Linked DNA regions of Homo sapiens: region 1 is linked to region 2. Evidence: fine-mapped expression QTL. Tissue or cell type: whole blood. Region 2 holds a variant in brackets; the other region holds the start of a gene. All regions are shown on one strand. Distances are between the middles of the regions.

The links. PIP is the estimated chance that this variant, and not a neighbour inherited with it, causes the effect.
Region 1: FIGNL1 starts here. The variant in region 2 is the best candidate, but not a certain one, in a credible set for the expression of FIGNL1 in whole blood (INTERVAL, PIP 0.65).

The regions. Positions count from the first base shown.
Region 1 is chr7:50,445,654-50,454,610 of GRCh38, reverse strand. FIGNL1 (fidgetin like 1) reads left to right here and starts at 4,261. Exons shown (of 4, transcript NM_001287492.4): 1 at 4,261-4,310; 2 at 4,888-5,493; 3 at 6,322-6,430; 4 at 7,314-8,957. The coding sequence starts at 7,324. RefSeq lists silencers at 4,115-4,304, 4,446-4,740 and an enhancer at 7,061-8,260.
Region 2 is chr7:50,421,954-50,430,910 of GRCh38, reverse strand. No RefSeq gene overlaps it. Among named protein-coding and RNA genes, the nearest start is that of FIGNL1, 24 kb to the left of the region's middle. The variant A/G (reference allele first, on the strand shown) is at 4,028.

The DNA of each region.
Region 1 (8,957 bases), 24 kb before region 2:
TGGGGGATGCAATTCAACCCCTTACATACTGTACCAAACTGGAGGCACCTAGAAGTGTTGACTCCAATTGGTAGCGCAGTCCTTGAGGAAAATGACGACCCAAGCAAATGTTTCCTTCAATCTCTGCTCTACCCCGTTTCAGGTGCTATAGAAAAATTACGGGAGGGCATTGTTTTAGAGTGAGCTCCTGCACTAGGTCCCAACAGACCAAACTAAAGTGGAGTCACTCATGCTAAGTGCCATTTAACCAAGCTGAAACTTTAAGAAAGCTGGTGGTCCCCAAATAGACCAGTTTTTCTTGAAAACAAGAGTCACAGCAACCCATCAGAAAGAGTTCAGTCTGCCTGAGTCAGAGTAATAAGGAAGTCCCATTTGCTTTAACCATGACGAGAAAAGTAGTCTGAATTAAGCTGACACTAACCAATCAACCTTTAAAATAATACTGTTTCCTTGTTCCCACCTTACAAAACCACTGTTCTGCCATTCCCCAGTGGGAACTCTAATTCTATTTTATAGAATGGAGGCTACTGGATTCATGAATCATGAATAAAAGCCAATTTGATCTGTAAATAATTTTGTCTTTTGACACCAGGAGAACACCACCTCCCCCCTCACCAGCTGTGTTTATGACAATGATGCCAGAGGTAGCCTCTTCACATCCCTTTATGATTCATTCAGTATGGCCAATGAAAATCTTTTACTAAAATTGTGCACTTGCTTCACCCTGGGCTCACACATCTTACTCCTCTGCTGGAGGGCTAGAACACCATCCCCTCAATCCTGGTACTTTTTTCTTCCTTACCACTGAGTCAGGGAGCTGAGAGGTTTGGAAGTCAGTGGGAATCCACACAGAGAAAGAACTGGATTTAGATTGGGCTGTTTTCCCTCTGAGCTTTGTCCTGTTGGCTTCCCTATCTCCTCAACACCACCTGCCTCCCGCACCCACCGACACACACATCTCCAGAATGTAACTCTCCTGGCTGACAGGGAAGCACATTATTTAGGGCCGTATTATCCCCTCTGCTCAAAAACAAATGAGCTCACCGAAGTGTACACTTGCATTTATCTGAGACCATGTTTATAAAATTCATGAATATGGAAATGGGCAGCCATCTCCCAGAATCCCTCACACCAAGAGAACTGGCACTGTCTGCTGTAGGTGAAAACCTCTTCCCTTGAAGGCTCAACAACTTCTACCCAGAAGAAGAAAAGAACAGCATATTCTTTCTCATACACACACACAAACACACACACACACACACACGCACACAGTATATACCACCAGTCTGTGGTCTTGGAAGCAAAGTTTAATAATTGAATAGCTCAAGCACTAAACTCTTACATATTATTAAGATACTATCCTAATATGTCTCATTTGTCAAAGATGGAAAAGTTTTGATATGACATAAGGGTTTCAATCCCAATAGGAATATTAATGGTAACAATAAAAATAACATAGCAACACGGTTTCTGTTGAATGCCTGCCACATGCCAGCAACTGCTTTGATAATTAAAGAATTATATCTTATGTTGATTATAATCCTTATAATGGCTTCCTGGGTAAGAAAGGTTTATTACTGTTTTACATTTGAGGAGGAGACTAGGGTTCAGAGAGGGTGCAGAAGTGAGTTACACTTTTGCCAACCAGGCCAGAAGATGAAAGCCGCTGGATTGGGAAATGCTTTTGTATCAAAAGCACAAAATGAAGTGGCTAGTGTTACTTGTTGGAAAAAAATTAACTTTGGCAAGCATAAATATAATTCAGTATTTGAGCAATACTTTTAGGAGGGTAACAGAGTGGTTTATGTGAATTCTCCAAAATGCCATCATGAAAATTTTGATGATGAAAATCACCTAAAATTGCTAATTACCTGTCTTAGCCTGTCTAGGGCTACAAAGTACCATATGCTGAGTGGCTCATAAACAATAGAAATTTATTTCTCACAGTGGAGGCTGGAAGTCAGAGTGCCAGAATGGTCGAGTTCTGGTGAGGGCTCTTCCAGGTTGCTGTCAACTCTTTGCATCCTTAGGTGGTGGCAAGAGGGCTAGAAAGTTCTTTGGAGTCTCTTTTATTGTATTTTATTTTTTGGAGACAGTCTCACTCCGTCCCCCAGGCTGGAGTGCAGTGGCGCGATCTCAGTTCACTGCAACCTCCACCTCCTGGGTTCAAGCAATTCTCAGGCCTCAGCCTCCTAAGTAGCTGGGATTACAGGTGCCCACCACAACACCTGGCTAATTTTTGTATTTTTAGTAGAGACAGGGTTTTGCCATGTTGGCCAGGCTGGTCTCGAACTCCTGACCCCAGGCGATCCACCTGCCTCGGCCTCCCAAAGTGCTGGGATTACAGGCATGAGACACTGCACCCAGCCTCTGGAGTCTCTTTTATAAGGATACTTACTATTCTCATCCATGAAGTCTCCACTCTCATGACCTAATCACCTCACAAAGGCCCCGCCCCTTAAAACCATCACATTGGGCTTAGGATTTCAACATACAAATTTTGGGGGGACATAAACTTTCCATCCCTAACATTACCCAAATAGTATCTATATAGTCATTTCTAAATATACACGTATTTAGAAATTTCTAAATAGCCAGTAAACATACAACTGACTTGGCCTTGATATAACTGTTTTCATTTTCTTTTATTTTCATTCTACATGACATATTTTGGGTAATTATAAAATAATTAAAATTAGTTGATAAAGTATGGAATTAGAATAAAATAATTTTCTATTACTATCTAAGCCATGAAATGAATTAGGAGATGCTGTTTTCAGTGAAACGTCTTCTAGTTTTTAAAGTGCATTGTCCAATTCCTTTTTATTTTGTGAAGATTTTAAAAACTTAAAAAAAGTCTTCAAATTGTTTGTGCCTTGCATTTCTTTAAATCTTATGTTTAAACATCATGTGCTGCTAGTTGCTAGTCATTTTCTCTATCCCCTGCCCCAGACCCTCTCTTTCTCAGGAAAGGATATCCAGGGATCCGGGTCCCAGTTAGTCAAGGAGATATAAGAGGAAGGCTATGAGGCTTTCTGGGAAACATTTTCTTTTTCCAAGAGAGAAGTGTTCAGAGGGAAAAGGTCCTTTCTCAGTTTGGCTCCCTCTTTGTGTTTTAGATCTGGTCATGTGAGGCTGCCTGGCTTGGATTGTGAGGGCATCTCTCGACAATGAAGTGACAAGCCTGGGGAGGAAAATCCACAGGCGAGAAGGTGGCAGAATGGAGAGATGGTCCTTCATGACTTCTTTGAGTCACCAGGTCCAGATTTCCCGCCAACCTCCAGTCTTCTTGTTATGTGATCTGATATCATTATTTACTGCAGAGGCCACTGAGTGGATGCTCTTACTTGTGTCTGAAAATCCAATTCACTAAATTAATCAAAATACGGCACTCTTCTTTTGAAACCTTGCTCCAGAACAAAGTGGAAGGTAATGATGGGGTGCTTTTCAAAGTTCCAGGGAGGTGTCCCTACACAGCAGACAGCTGTCCAAAGGAATGTAGATGTTGGCTGCGGGGAGATCTGAGTTGCCAGACTCAGTCAGAACAGGTGTCCTCTCCCTTATTTTATCTTAAACATGCATGTCATTTTTGCATGCTACTCTATGCGGTTCTTTCAGCCAGGGAACATTGCTGAGCACCCGCTCACGTGCTGTATGGAGCGCAGACTGCAGGGTGCGAGGGGCGGAGGTGATGTGCTAGGCCTGAATTCAAGAGGGGGCGCAGCCACAGGCCCCGCGATGCCGGGGTGGCCTCTTGTAACGACGTTTTAACCGCTGACCTAAGTGGATCCGCTCCTCTCCCGCCGCCCGCTCCCTGCCTGCAGCACAGGATGGCGGCTGGCTTTCCCGAGTGGGCGCAGGTGAGCCACGCTTGCTCTCCCGGGTGGGCGCAGGTGAGCCATTGTTTGCTCTCCCGGGTGGGCGCAGGAGAGCCACGCTTTGCTCTCCCAGGTGAGCCGCCGCTCGCTGTCCCGGTGAGGGGAAGTGAGCCACGCTCTATGGGAATCCTTCGAATCTTCATTCAATTTCCATCGCCTCCTTGTATTTATTTGGGAGTACTTTTAAAAATGAAGCCTATGCACAATGATGTAATAAGCGTTTATAGAACACCACTGGTCGGAGCTAGGGCCTAGGTGGCGGTGCCCGGGCCCAGGTGCCGCGCCCACGCCCCGCGCGCCGAACGCACGCACGCACGCACTCACGCACTCACGCACGCACGTACGGCGCGAGTCCGAGGGCGACAGCAGCGCGCAGGCGCACGTCAGTCCCCGCGCTTTTCGGAGGCTGCCAGCGTCCCACACCAGCCGCAGGTAGGATGCGGTGACGGGAGGCGGGGCAGGGGCGCTGCTGACCCCTGTGGAGCATCAGGGTTGGGGCGTAGGGGAGAGGCGGGCGTGTGCCTCTGGAATGCTGGGGGTCGCGGGGCGGTGACTTCGCGGGAGGCCGTGGGAGGCGGGAGCCAGGCAGTGGCTGTGCCCTTTTGCTTCTGTCTTAGCGGGAGGGTGGCTGACCCGCTAGCCCAGAACCAGACTCATCCAGGATTAGGAAGCTGGGGCCCGGCGTGGACGGCAGGCTCGGGGCCAGGTCTGCGGGCGGCTTCCTTTGGCAGAGCCTGTCCGGGGGCGGGGCCGCTTACCGCAGGCATTTACTGGGCCCAGCGGGGCTCTGGGCGCCCACAGCGGGGGTCAGTCAGTTCCCCTGTGACCCAGGCAAGCTCTTAATCTCTGTGATGAGAAAGAAGGGCTCATACCTTTCAGGGGTCATCGTGAGGAATCAGAAGAAGCAGTATTTTATAGAGTATTTTCTAAGTGCTGAGTCCTCTGTCTAGTGCTTTGCAGAATTAAAATACCTTGTCAGCTCAGTGATGTTGCTGCGCTTCTTTTATAGGTGAAAACCGGCAGAAAGACATTAAGAGATTTTCCTGCAGTCACTGCTGGCAGATGATAGAGCCAGGATTTGAAAGCAGGCAGCCTGGCTCCAGACCCTGTGCTCTTAACTCCCGTTTTGCATCAAGAACAGAATCCTATGAAAGGCTTGCACAGTGCTTGGTACTGAGTAGGCACTCCGTCAGTATTTTAGTAGCTATTATTCCAAAGGACACTGTATTCTAGGTACTAAGACAATGTGAATGGAATGGAAAACAATTCCTCCCTGCAGAAGCCAACTGTCTAGGAAGACAGATAATGACATTATTAAAATAATCAGAACATTGGCAAAATAAAGAAGATTGAAATGCAGTTCATATGACAGTGCTAATTAATCATACTTTTTAGATCTAGGAAAGGCCATAAAGGTTAAATTGACTTGGAAATGGTAAACAAGACAATGGTTGTGTCACTGATCGGTGATGGCCAGTTTTTGGTTATCCTTATTTGCCATTTAAATGATTGAATTGAAAGGAAGAAGTAAGACTTGGAAGATGAATATTGAAGGAAAGGTGAAGATGGAAAAGAGAAGGGGGTTTATTCTGAGAACAGTGACTAGAACTCTGAGGTATGGTAGAAATTTCAGGATAACAGATGATAAAGGGGAATGAAGCCATGGAGAGGAAGAGAATGATAATATTAATTGTGAAAGTTTGTGTCAAGTGTTTTCTGAGTCACCTTTCTTTCAGTTTCTCATTTCTAGTATTGTATAAATGAGTTTAACATCAAAATGGTATAGTGAAAAAAAGGATGAACTGCTTGACAGAAGAGGTCAGATCTAGTTTTGACTCTAGCTTATTTAGCTTTACAGCTTTAAATAAATTACAGTGTCTTTAAAGCTCTGGATCTTAAGTTTTCTAATTGTTTTTTAAACAAAGATTTGTGAACACCTACTTACAATGTGACAAATGTCTTTGTAAGGCATTATGGGAGATAAAAGCTGCATTAAACCTGGCTGTTGTACTTACAAGTAATTTGGAAGGCAAAATTTCAAATACTTGAACCTAAAGTAGGGTTTCTTGGTTTTCATTTAATTGAAATACTGTTAGGAAACAAAAATTTTTCATAAATTTTTCTTGTGGATATGTAAGTAAATTCTATATATCTAGCAATATGATACATCTATAGTTCTGTTTAAAGGTAACAATGTGAGGAAGCTTATGCGAATAACTTGACAGAAGAAATCTAAAGTAAAAGCATTTTCCTAGTAGGCTAGCTTGTTCTCTTATTTCATTTATTGTAACAGTTTCACTTTTTAATAATTATGTGAAATTAGGAAACAGATATTCTAGGGCATTCTGTTTAGGGTGATGAACTTATTCATGAATGTTATTAAAACCATTTAAATATGCCATAGTTTAAATTTGTGATCCATGCTGTTCAATCTGTGACCTAGGATAGCAGCATCAAGGAGCATTGTGTACATGCAGAAGTGCACAGTACCTGGAGTGAAACTGCTTGTGTTCGATTTCTGATACCATTCATAACTGGCTGTGTGATCTCAAGTAAGTTCTTTAAGTCTCTCAGCCTCGGTTTGTACATTTGTGTGATAAGGATAATGATAGTTTTCAGATTATTTTCATAGTCATTGCTTGATTTGATTCTTCCAATGGTTCCTCTCACTTTGCAGATAAGAAAACTGAAGAACCAGCTGGGCGCGGTAGCTCACGCCTGTAATCCCAGCACTTTGGGAGGCTGAGGCGGGTGGATTACCTGAGGTCAGGAGTTCAAGACCAGCCTGACTAACATGGCGAAACCCCATCTCTACTAAAAATATAAAAATTATCCAGGGGTGGTGGCAGGTGCCTGTAATCCCAGCTACTTGGGAAGCTGGGGCAGGAGAAGCACTTGAACCCGCGAGGTGGAGGTTGCAGTGAGCTGAGAGCGCCACTGCCCTCCAGCAGCCTGGGTGACAGAGCGAGACACTGTCTCAAAAAAAAATAATAATAAAATAAAAATAAACCATCAGTGATAGTAAAAAGCTCACTTAAGCTCATTCACCTAGTTTTATAGATCAGACTTAAACCTCTTGTTTATTTTGTTTTGCTTTATGTATCTATAGTTCCATTGTTTTTAAAATTTAAAATTAATTTTAAACCTTATGAATGCTTTCCCTACAGATAAAATTATGTAACTAGAACAATTTAACTCATATAAATTATTATTTAATCAAGTCCTTAATTTTGAAGACTTCATATTGATATGTCTTGAATACTTGAAATCTATAGTTAACTAGATATTTCTCTTATAACCTGTCCTTATAAATCTACATTATAAATAAAAAGTCCAGTGTCCCTTCCTTCAGATTAGCAGAAGTTTCAAAATTACATTTAAAGTATTTTCTTTGTTTTCCTTCATACTGATTTTCATTTTTATTGTTTGTTATAGAACCTCTAAAATGCAGACCTCCAGCTCTAGATCTGTGCACCTGAGTGAATGGCAGAAGAATTACTTCGCAATTACATCTGGCATATGTACCGGACCGAAGGCAGATGCATACCGTGCACAGATATTACGCATTCAGTATGCATGGGCAAACTCTGAGATTTCCCAGGTCTGTGCTACCAAACTGTTCAAAAAATATGCAGAGAAATATTCTGCAATTATTGATTCTGACAATGTTGAATCTGGGTTGAATAATTATGCAGAAAACATTTTAACTTTGGCAGGATCTCAACAAACAGATAGTGACAAGTGGCAGTCTGGATTGTCAATAAATAATGTTTTCAAAATGAGTAGTGTACAGAAGATGATGCAAGCTGGCAAAAAATTCAAAGACTCTCTGTTGGAACCTGCTCTTGCATCAGTGGTAATCCATAAGGAGGCCACTGTCTTTGATCTTCCTAAATTTAGTGTTTGTGGTAGTTCTCAAGAGAGTGACTCATTACCTAACTCAGCTCATGATCGAGACCGGACCCAAGACTTCCCGGAGAGCAATCGTTTGAAACTCCTTCAGAATGCCCAGCCACCTATGGTGACTAACACTGCTAGGACTTGTCCTACATTCTCAGCACCTGTAGGTGAGTCAGCTACTGCAAAATTCCATGTCACACCATTGTTTGGAAATGTCAAAAAGGAAAATCACAGCTCTGCAAAAGAAAACATAGGACTTAATGTGTTCTTATCTAACCAGTCTTGTTTTCCTGCTGCCTGTGAAAATCCACAGAGGAAGTCTTTTTATGGTTCTGGCACCATTGATGCACTTTCCAATCCAATACTGAATAAGGCTTGTAGTAAAACAGAAGATAATGGCCCAAAGGAGGATAGCAGCCTGCCTACATTTAAAACTGCAAAAGAACAATTATGGGTAGATCAGCAAAAAAAGTACCACCAACCTCAGCGTGCATCAGGGTCTTCATATGGTGGTGTAAAAAAGTCTCTAGGAGCTAGTAGATCCCGAGGGATACTTGGAAAGTTTGTTCCTCCTATACCCAAGCAAGATGGGGGAGAGCAGAATGGAGGAATGCAATGTAAGCCTTATGGGGCAGGACCTACAGAACCAGCACATCCAGTTGATGAGCGTCTGAAGAACTTGGAGCCAAAGATGATTGAACTTATTATGAATGAGATTATGGATCATGGACCTCCAGTAAATTGGGAAGATATTGCAGGAGTAGAATTTGCTAAAGCCACCATAAAGGAAATAGTTGTGTGGCCCATGTTGAGGCCAGACATCTTTACTGGTTTAAGGGGACCCCCTAAAGGAATTTTGCTCTTTGGTCCTCCTGGGACTGGTAAAACTCTAATTGGCAAGTGCATTGCTAGTCAGTCTGGGGCAACATTCTTTAGCATCTCTGCTTCATCCTTAACTTCTAAATGGGTAGGTGAGGGGGAGAAAATGGTCCGTGCATTGTTTGCTGTTGCAAGGTGTCAGCAACCAGCTGTGATATTTATTGACGAAATTGATTCCTTGTTATCTCAACGGGGAGATGGTGAGCATGAATCTTCTAGAAGGATAAAAACAGAATTTTTAGTTCAATTAGATGGAGCAACAACATCTTCTGAAGATCGTATCCTAGTGGTGGGAGCAAC
Region 2 (8,957 bases):
GCGATCTTGGCTCACTGCAACCTTTGCCTCCCAGGTTCAAGCGATTCTCCTGCCTCAGCCTCCCAAGTAGCTGGGACTACAGATGCCCGCCACCCATGCCCAGCTAATTTTTGTATTTTTAGTAGAGACAGGGTTTTGCCAAGTTGGCCAGACTTATCTCGAACTCCTGACCTCAGGTGATCCGCCTGCCTCGGCCTCCCAAACTGCTGGGATTACAGCCTATGTTTTATTTTTCATAAAGATAATGTTCTCTACTTTTTACTATAAAGTCAATAAAATATTTCATTGAATAAATAATAAAGCAAATAAATAACAAGTAAATAACATAATATTAAATAAATAATACTTTATTGTCTTTTTAAAATAAACAACTACAACTCAGAAAATTTATGTTTATGAAATCTCACCTTGAGACTACAGTGAAAAGTTTCCTTATGGATCTCTGCAGTATGCTTCCACCACAGATTCTTCTAAAGATTAGAGCAATCTTAATTTAAAACAGATTTAATGCATATAATAAAAGTTTAATTATTGTAATATATACTCATTGAAGAAAATCTGAAAAGTTCACAATGCAAAATGGAGAAGAAAACAGACACAATTCTACAACTCAGAATGTTCTGGTGTATTTATCTCCTAATCATCCTTTCTGTTTACACACACAAACACATAGCATAATATATTTTAATAAAGCTAGAATTACACTGTAGTTACAATCATCATTAAAACATCTCTATGTACTATATGCAGAACTCAACATTCCTAATAACTCTTCAGGGGTGCGTAGTTTTCCATTGAGTGGGTGTACCATGCTTTCTCAACTGGTCCCTGGATGTTCCACTGTTGTAGAGGACAAGATCTTTAGGTGTTGAGAAAATTCTTATAAGAACAGCAGAGAACCATATGGGCTTAAGAGAAATAAGAAGTTGATAGCCTTAACAAGACCTCCAGAAGTTTATTTTTGTTAGCACCTTAGTTCCTGGGTGTTTTCTAGGGATCAGCAGCACCCTCATCACTGGAGACCCAGCCCAGGCCCACTGCCTCAAGGATCTGCATGTTAACAAGATCCCCCTGGTAATTCCAGCGCATGTGACAGTGTGAGAAGCTCTGGCTTCATGCAACAGAGGAAAGGGTGTAACTAGAAAACTCTCAGCAATATTTCAAAATAGTACAAAAAGCAGTCTATGGGTATGATTCTTGAAATCATTTCAAGTCATAATATTGTTCACAAATACATCAGGCTAAATTTAAGAAATGGGATTTGGGGTTTGGAACAACTCAGAGTAAAGTTAGGTTGAAATAGAAGCGATAACCATCTTGGAAGTAGATTTTTTATCAGTCAAACCTTCAAATCTGTGTTTTGTGATTTCTTTCTTTCCATTTAGAAAGACTTCTCCTAGCCAGGGGTGAGATATCCTGTATATCTCTTGTATTTAAGTTCCCACCTTTTTGTCTAGATATCTTTTGTGTTTAATATGATGAGGCACTAATTGATTTTTTTCTAGTAGCGTACTGATTTTAAAGAATCATGAATTGCATAGTTATGCTTTTTCCTGTTTGTTTTTTATCTACTTGTTCTTTTGAATCAGCTCTCAAAGTGTGGTTCACAGATCTCTGTGTTCCTTAAGCCCCTTTCAGGGGATATGCAACGTTAAAACCCAGATATTACTTGCTTTCCCCTGTGTTCATATGCACAGTGATGGTGAAAAAGCAGTGGTGGGTAACACTACTGGTGCCTGAATCACCACCGTGACTCCACACTATGCTGGTAGCCAGTGTATTTCTCATTGCAACACATTCCCAGTTTTTTAAAAATTCCAGTTTTACTTAAGAATGTCCTTGATGAAGCAGTGGAAGTTGTTAGTTTTTTTTTAATAATCTCAATCCATGAGTAAACATCTGGTATTTTGTGAGACAAAATGGGAAGTAGACATAAAGCAAATCTATAGCATATCACAGTACCTGTTTTCTCGAGGCAAAGCACTTGAACAATTATTTGAATTACAAGCTAATCTAGCCACTTCTTTGATGGAACACCATTTTTACTGAAAAGAATGACAGGTACACTATGTTTATTCACACTTGTGTTTTTGGCAAAGATTTTCTTGTAAGTGAATGGCATGAGCCTGTCACTTCAAGCAGAACAACTGAATAGTTCTTCAAAATATAAAATTTAAGTTTCCAAAGAAGAATTGGAATTTTAGGAAGCTTTTCATTGTGAGCAGCTTCCCAATACTTCAGGACATTTCTGATGAGATTAGCGGTGAACAGATTTTGATGTGGCCTCTACAATCCCTGCTTCCTGGGGCTCACGCCTTTTGACAGTCCCTCTCTTGAATGGGGTGGATACTTGTGACTTTCGTCTAGACTACAGCATGCAGCAAAAGTCATCGGCTGTCAGTCCCATGATTGTGTTGTCTAAGACTTGATCTTGCTAGAACATTCACTCTCACTCTCCCGCTGGCCTTGAAGAAGCAAGCTGCTGTGTTGTGAATTGCCTGCTGTGAGAGCCACAAGGTGGGACAGCCTCTAGGAGCTGAGGGCCACATCCAGGCAGCAGGGAGCAAAACCCGGAAATTTTCAGTCATATAATCACAAACAAATGAATTCTGCCAGCCACCCGAGTAAGCTTGGAAATGGAGCCTTTCCCAGTTGATCTTCCAGAAGAGAATGCAGCCTGAATGGCACCTTGAATGCACCCTAGTAAGACTCTGAAACAGAATCCAGCCAGGCTATGTCTAGACTCCAAACACATAGACGCTGTGTGATTTTAAGCTGCTAAGTCGGTGGTAATTTGTTATGTAACACTAGATAACTAATACAGATTTTGGTATCTAGAAGTGGTTGGGGGCTGTCACAAATCCCTACAAATGGGGCAGTGGCTTTGGAAGCAGGCCATGGTCGGGGGCTGGAAGAATTTTGAGGAGTGTAATAGACAATGCCTAAAGAATCTTGGACAGACTGTTATTAGCTATGGAGACTTTGGCACTGTCATTGGGATCTCTAAAGAAAAGGAGAAGCACGTTATTAGATACTGGAAGAAGCAGAATCTTATTATATAGTGGCAAAACGCTCAATGAAACTGTCTCCTGAAATTCTGTGAAAAGCTGAACTTGTAAATGATTAACTTAGCTATATAGTGAAAGGGATTTTCAAGCAAAGTGTTGAAGGTGCTGCCTGGTTTCTTTTTGCTGCTTATAGTAAAATGTAAGGGCATAGGTATATTGACAGAATAACTGTGCATAAAACAGAACCATGACTTGAGGACTTTGAAAATTCTTTAGCATCACCAAATGGCAATGATGCCAACATGAAGAGATTTATTGTCAGGAAAATGCACTCTGGGAGAAAAGCAGAGGGTGTAACTATACAACCATTTGCCAAAATCTTAGAAGGAATATAAGCTCAGAATATTCACTCACACAAAATACCTTTCAGTGCTTCACAGACCCTCTCAATAAATTAGCGGGCCTCTGGGAAGCTTAAGGGCACTATCTGTCTTTCATGCCCAGGGGGCCAAGGTGGAGGAGGTATTATTACAAAAAGGTCTGTGGATGTGACTTGTGTCCAATGGAGTGAACCCATTAAAATCCACAGAAAGCCCATAGAATATTTGAGAAAACTGTTTCAGCAGAAACATCACAAGCTTAGACTAATGGGGACAGACAGAGTAAAACAAAAGGCCACTTCAGACTCCCAAATTCTACTGGCAGGACAAAGGCTGATAAAACTTCTCACCTGCAAATGCCTTTTAGGAAAATGGAAGGATGACCCAGAGGGCAGCGTTAAAACTCAGAAGGCAAAGCCAAGAGCCACAGGTCATTTATTCTAAGGGCTTAAAGCTTAATCAAGAAACCCAACATTCTCCTGCCTGGATTTCAGAACTGTAATGGATTGGTGACTCTTTTGTACGTCCCGGGTATGAGAATGTGTATAGCTGTTATCCTCTGCCTGTCCACCTGTGTGTACAGGGTGAGATGGGGGCAGATCATTCTTCTCTTTTGTTTCCCAGGTCCACAGATCAAGG[A/G]AGGGTGGGCCCCAGGAACTATACTTATCTGGACCTGGACTTGATGATAAGATTGTGGACTTTGTGCCGACACCTGAATGGGCAGAGACATTGGGGAACCTTGGGAAGCATGAATATCTTTTACATGTGTCATGGATGTGAATCACTGGGGGCCAGAGGGTGGACTCTGGCAGACTCTAAGGTGGTCCCTGCAAACCTTGCCTTCTGTTCATGTTTCTGTGTAATCTCCTCGCCTTGAGGGTGTTTGGAACTTGGGACTTTCTGCTAATGAACAGAATTTAGAAGTGATAGGGTCTCACTTCTGTGACTAATTTACCAAAAGACTGTAGCTTCTGGCTTGTTCATCCTCTCTTGCTCTTTCACTCACTCTGATTTGCACCTGCTGCCATAATGGGAGCTGCCCTGTGGAGAGGCCCATGTGGCAAGGAACAGAGGGAGGCCTCGGGCCCAACAATCATAAAATGAGCTTAGAAGTGAACCCTCAGCTAGCTGAGTCTTCAGATAAGACCTCAGCCCAAGCTGAGGCCTTGTGAGACACCTTGAGCCAGAAAACAAAGCTAAATGCACCTAGATTCCTGACCCACAGAAATGGTTAGATAATAAATATCTCATGTTTTAAACTACTAAGTTTTTGAATAAATTTTATGTAGCAGTAAATAGTAAGGCCAGTAAAATGATATTTCTAGCACACTTGAGTTTGTGGCCCAAAATTCAAACATACTGCCCTATTTGTGAGTTCACTGCTAACCATATGTATTTACCCCTAAAAATCTCATAGTGAAAGAAAGACATGGTTTACCTCCATAGATTCCTGAGTGTCCTTCCAATAGCTATTGTTTGTGTAAAAACTTAGAGATCCTACTGCTTATTGGAAACTTGCTAGTTCATGCACCTTTTTTTGTCTGATTAAAATATCTCCTGCCTTCTTCATCTTAAAATAATTTTTTATTTTGAAAATTTCAGACACAGAAGTTGCAAATATAAGACGGAGTTCTTTAGTACCCTTCAGCCACTTGCCCCCAGTGATAACATTGTATACAAGCATAATACATTATCAACATCATCTGATTCCTTTTTTGAATAGAAAAACAATTCTATTTAGTAGATCTATTAGTAGGCTTTCACCCTACATGGAAAGTCTTTCTTATATTGGAACTTTTCAAGAAATGTGGCTGCAGATCTATCTAGTACTATCTAGAGGGCAGGGCCCTCAGATCCCGACCCGCAAAATGAGCCTCAGTGGGAATCTATACTTGCCAACCAACATGAACATAGCAATAAAATGATCCATTCGTCAGGGCCTTGACGAGGCCTGCGCCCCAGATTGTGCTCAGCTCCCAAGCTGCTGAGAGCTTTGGGGGGTAGCAGGTGTGGGGAGCAGGTGGCTCTACCAAAATAACAGCAGCAGCAGCAACAGCAACAATGACAACAGATAAAGTAGAGTCCCAGGAAGAAGGGAGGCACTGTTATTTGAATTACATTACTAAAGTGATAATAAATGTCACTTCAATAATGTGTCCAGTGATAATAAATGCCACTTCAATAATGTGTCCGTGGACATTCTAAGCATCAGACTTCATGTGAGCATGACTGTAGTTCTTTCAGCTAAATTACGGATTCTCTTTGCTTCACATCTCTCACGATAGGCAAACAAGCTTAACCATAATTTCCAAGTTTAAAATCCTATAGAGATGTTTCACTTAAGATTAAGCATGTTTTCAATCTCACCAGCACAAACTCTGGCAAAAACACAATGAACAGTAACTGTGGCAAAGCAAAATAATTAGATACCATTAAGGAAATAATCTACTTAGAAGATGGGTGATAACAATTTTTTCAGATCCAGCTGTGGCTGTGCTGCCTAACATAGCAGCCGCTATCCACGTATGGCTATTTAACATAAATCTATTAAAATTAAATAAAATTAAAAATCTGTCCCTCAGTTGCACTGGCCACATTCAGGAGCACACGTAGCTAGCGACTTTCATACTGGGCAGTACAGATATAGAACATTTCTTTTACCACAAATAATTTTCCTGGACAGCATCAACTTGCAGGATGCAAGAATCTGAAAGGGGCTAAGAGAAAAGAAAAAATAACAAGGCACATGAAGTGAGATATGAAATGCAGCAGAGCTCTCTCAATATCATTAAATGTCAGAATGATATTTAGATGTATATTATCAGATAACTCACCAATTATCTCAGCAAAAATTTTTGAATAATCTTCCTTTCCCCACTGATATTTCTAATGCCTCCTTTATTAGTCTTAGGGGACTCTGGGCAATCCCACCCTTTGGCAACTGGAATCGTGGCCACTCGCTATGTGAACATTTTTCTTATTTGAAGGAAAGATGGACTCGGAATGCTGCCACTAGGAAAACATGGCACGATGAGCCCTGGGTGGTTCTCGTCACAAGAAGCCCTTTTGTATAGCGAAAATAATATGATCTGATACGATACATGATATGACATGCCACAGGGAAGACTGCTTGAATGACAGGTTCAGCACAGGGACTCTGTACTGCCAGCATTTGCCCACAAAAAGGACAGACTCTCCCCTTCGAGCTTCATGGGCAAGGCAAGAGGGTGGCACTGCTTCCAATTCTCCCTCAAGTGTGTGGGCTCAGGACCCTCTCATGAGATGCCAAAGCACCGTCAACACCAAGCTATGGAGTTTAACAGACTTTGTGGAAATTCTATGGTTCATAGAGATAAGTTATTTTGCATTCAATGGAAACCATAAAATGATATAGGACATAATACTGTTCCTCAAGTTAACTGACCACAGACTGGAAGGGAGTCTCCCAGAGGCCTCTGGGGACATCTCAGCCAGATGACGCCCAGCCTCAGTGTTACAGAAGGCTGCTCATCTTACAACACAGGACCTTCAGCCTCGTCCTCCTGCCTAGAGCTCAGACCCAATTGCTTCAAGCCCCCAAAGAATCCTTCACCCCACAGTAAAAGTTCTTCCCTCCCTGCTTGGGGTGACTGCAGTCCGAACAGTTTCTCCTTTCAGGAGAATCTTCCACTCCAGGAGCCAGGCAAAACCATGGGGAAGGCTGCAGAATGACTGGCCTTGAAGCTATGCACTATTTACTTTGGGGGTGGGCTGAAGATGATGGATACAGCTACCCTAGCTGCACCTGCTGTCCCCACTGCTCCCAAAGCAAAAGAAGAAGTTGACTTGAGAAATTTCAGCATCCACACAAAATACAGAAACCGCTGGCACTCTCCCACATCATCAGTCTCCACTAGCGGAAACCCTACTAGTCATCTATTACATTAATCATAATAGCTAATACTTATCGGGTGCTTACTGTGTTGCAGGCACGTGTTAAGCTCTTGATATGCATTAAAAGATTTGATCAGCACAACACTCCTATGAAGCAGGTACTATTATGGCAAAGTCTAATTTTCAGAGTTGAAACTTGACTCTGACAAACACTGGACTAGTGTCCTAGGGCTGTGGTGACAAATGACCAGCACAATAGAAATCTCTTCCCCCACAGCTCTGGAGGCCAGAAGTCCAACCTCAGGCTGTCGACAGGCCACACTCCTGTTGGTGGTTCCCAGTGCTCCTCCGCCTGCCACAGCGCCATTCCAGTCTTGGCCTCTGTCTTCACATGACCTTCTTCCCCTGAGACTCCGTATCTGTCTGTGTCACTCCCTTTTCCTATAAGGACACCAGTCTTTGGATCGAGGGCCCACCCTAAATCCAGAATGATTTCCTCGTGATATCCTTAATAACCTCTGCGAAGACCCTACTTCCAAATAAGGTCACGTTCTGAGGATCCTGGTGGATGTGAATTTTCAGGGACATTGTGCAATCCACAACACATAAAAATAGTGAGGAATCATCAGAAATTATTTAATGAGTTCATGAGGGGATCAGCAGGATGTCAAGTTGAGGAAAAGAGCACTTGAGAGGCTGAGTGTGTACATGTAGCTGGGAGGGGAATGCCGGAGCAGGTTTGCTAAGTTAGCAACAAAGCCTGTGAATGTCTTCAGGTCAATAAAGTGTCACTTTTGGGGTTATCTTCACTACTGGGCAGAAATCATTTGTATCTTTACAGGACAAATGTACATGCATATAAGCAACTTCACAGAATCTAGGGCCAAGTCAACGGCAATGCAGGTTAAACACAAATAGATTGTCCTAGAGAATTAAAGGGTCCTTGGGTGGGTCTGTTAGCCTGTGTCCCAGTATGACATTAAAAGGACACACCCAATCATTCTCTTTTCTGTTTTGGATCATTTTTCTTAACAATTTTTATCCCCATCTTACAGATGAGAGGTTTGGTTGCCTAATAATTATATCAGTGATTCAGCCAATGGATTCAAGCTCAAAACCCAAGCCTGAATTTAGAGCTAAAATCTTTGCCAAATATATTTCCTCAGCTCTTTGGTTTTGAGACTTCTTGCATTAGGTGTTCATTATTTATTTTTGTCTATAATATTCACAGAGTGAAGCAGAAGCAAAGTTCTTTGTATCATGAAATAAGAACTACTATCGCGTTTTGACTTGAGAATTAACATGAAATACACACAATATGACTCAGTTCCTGGCTTTAAAGTGAATGTATACAGGAAATCTTGCATTTTTGGATAAACATTTGAGATTTTGGCCATTTGTGAGGACCCAAATTTCAGGACAGGAAGTGCTGTTAGCTGTGCTGAGGCCTGGATTTTATGGGCATGTTGTGTGTGCTGGCCAGTCTTTCAGCCTAAAAGGGGAGCCTAGTATAAAAGATGCCATCAGCTTCTCTAATCTCTGCTCCTCATTACTCAGGATCTCAGCAGGGTGTATTTGTGGTGGTATTTGTGAAGCTGGGGATCTGTAAATCTCCCCTGGCCCAAATTGCTTGTGAATGCCGAGTGCCTATTCTATTCTGCAACATGCTTGTCCATGAATTACCAAAGATCATCAG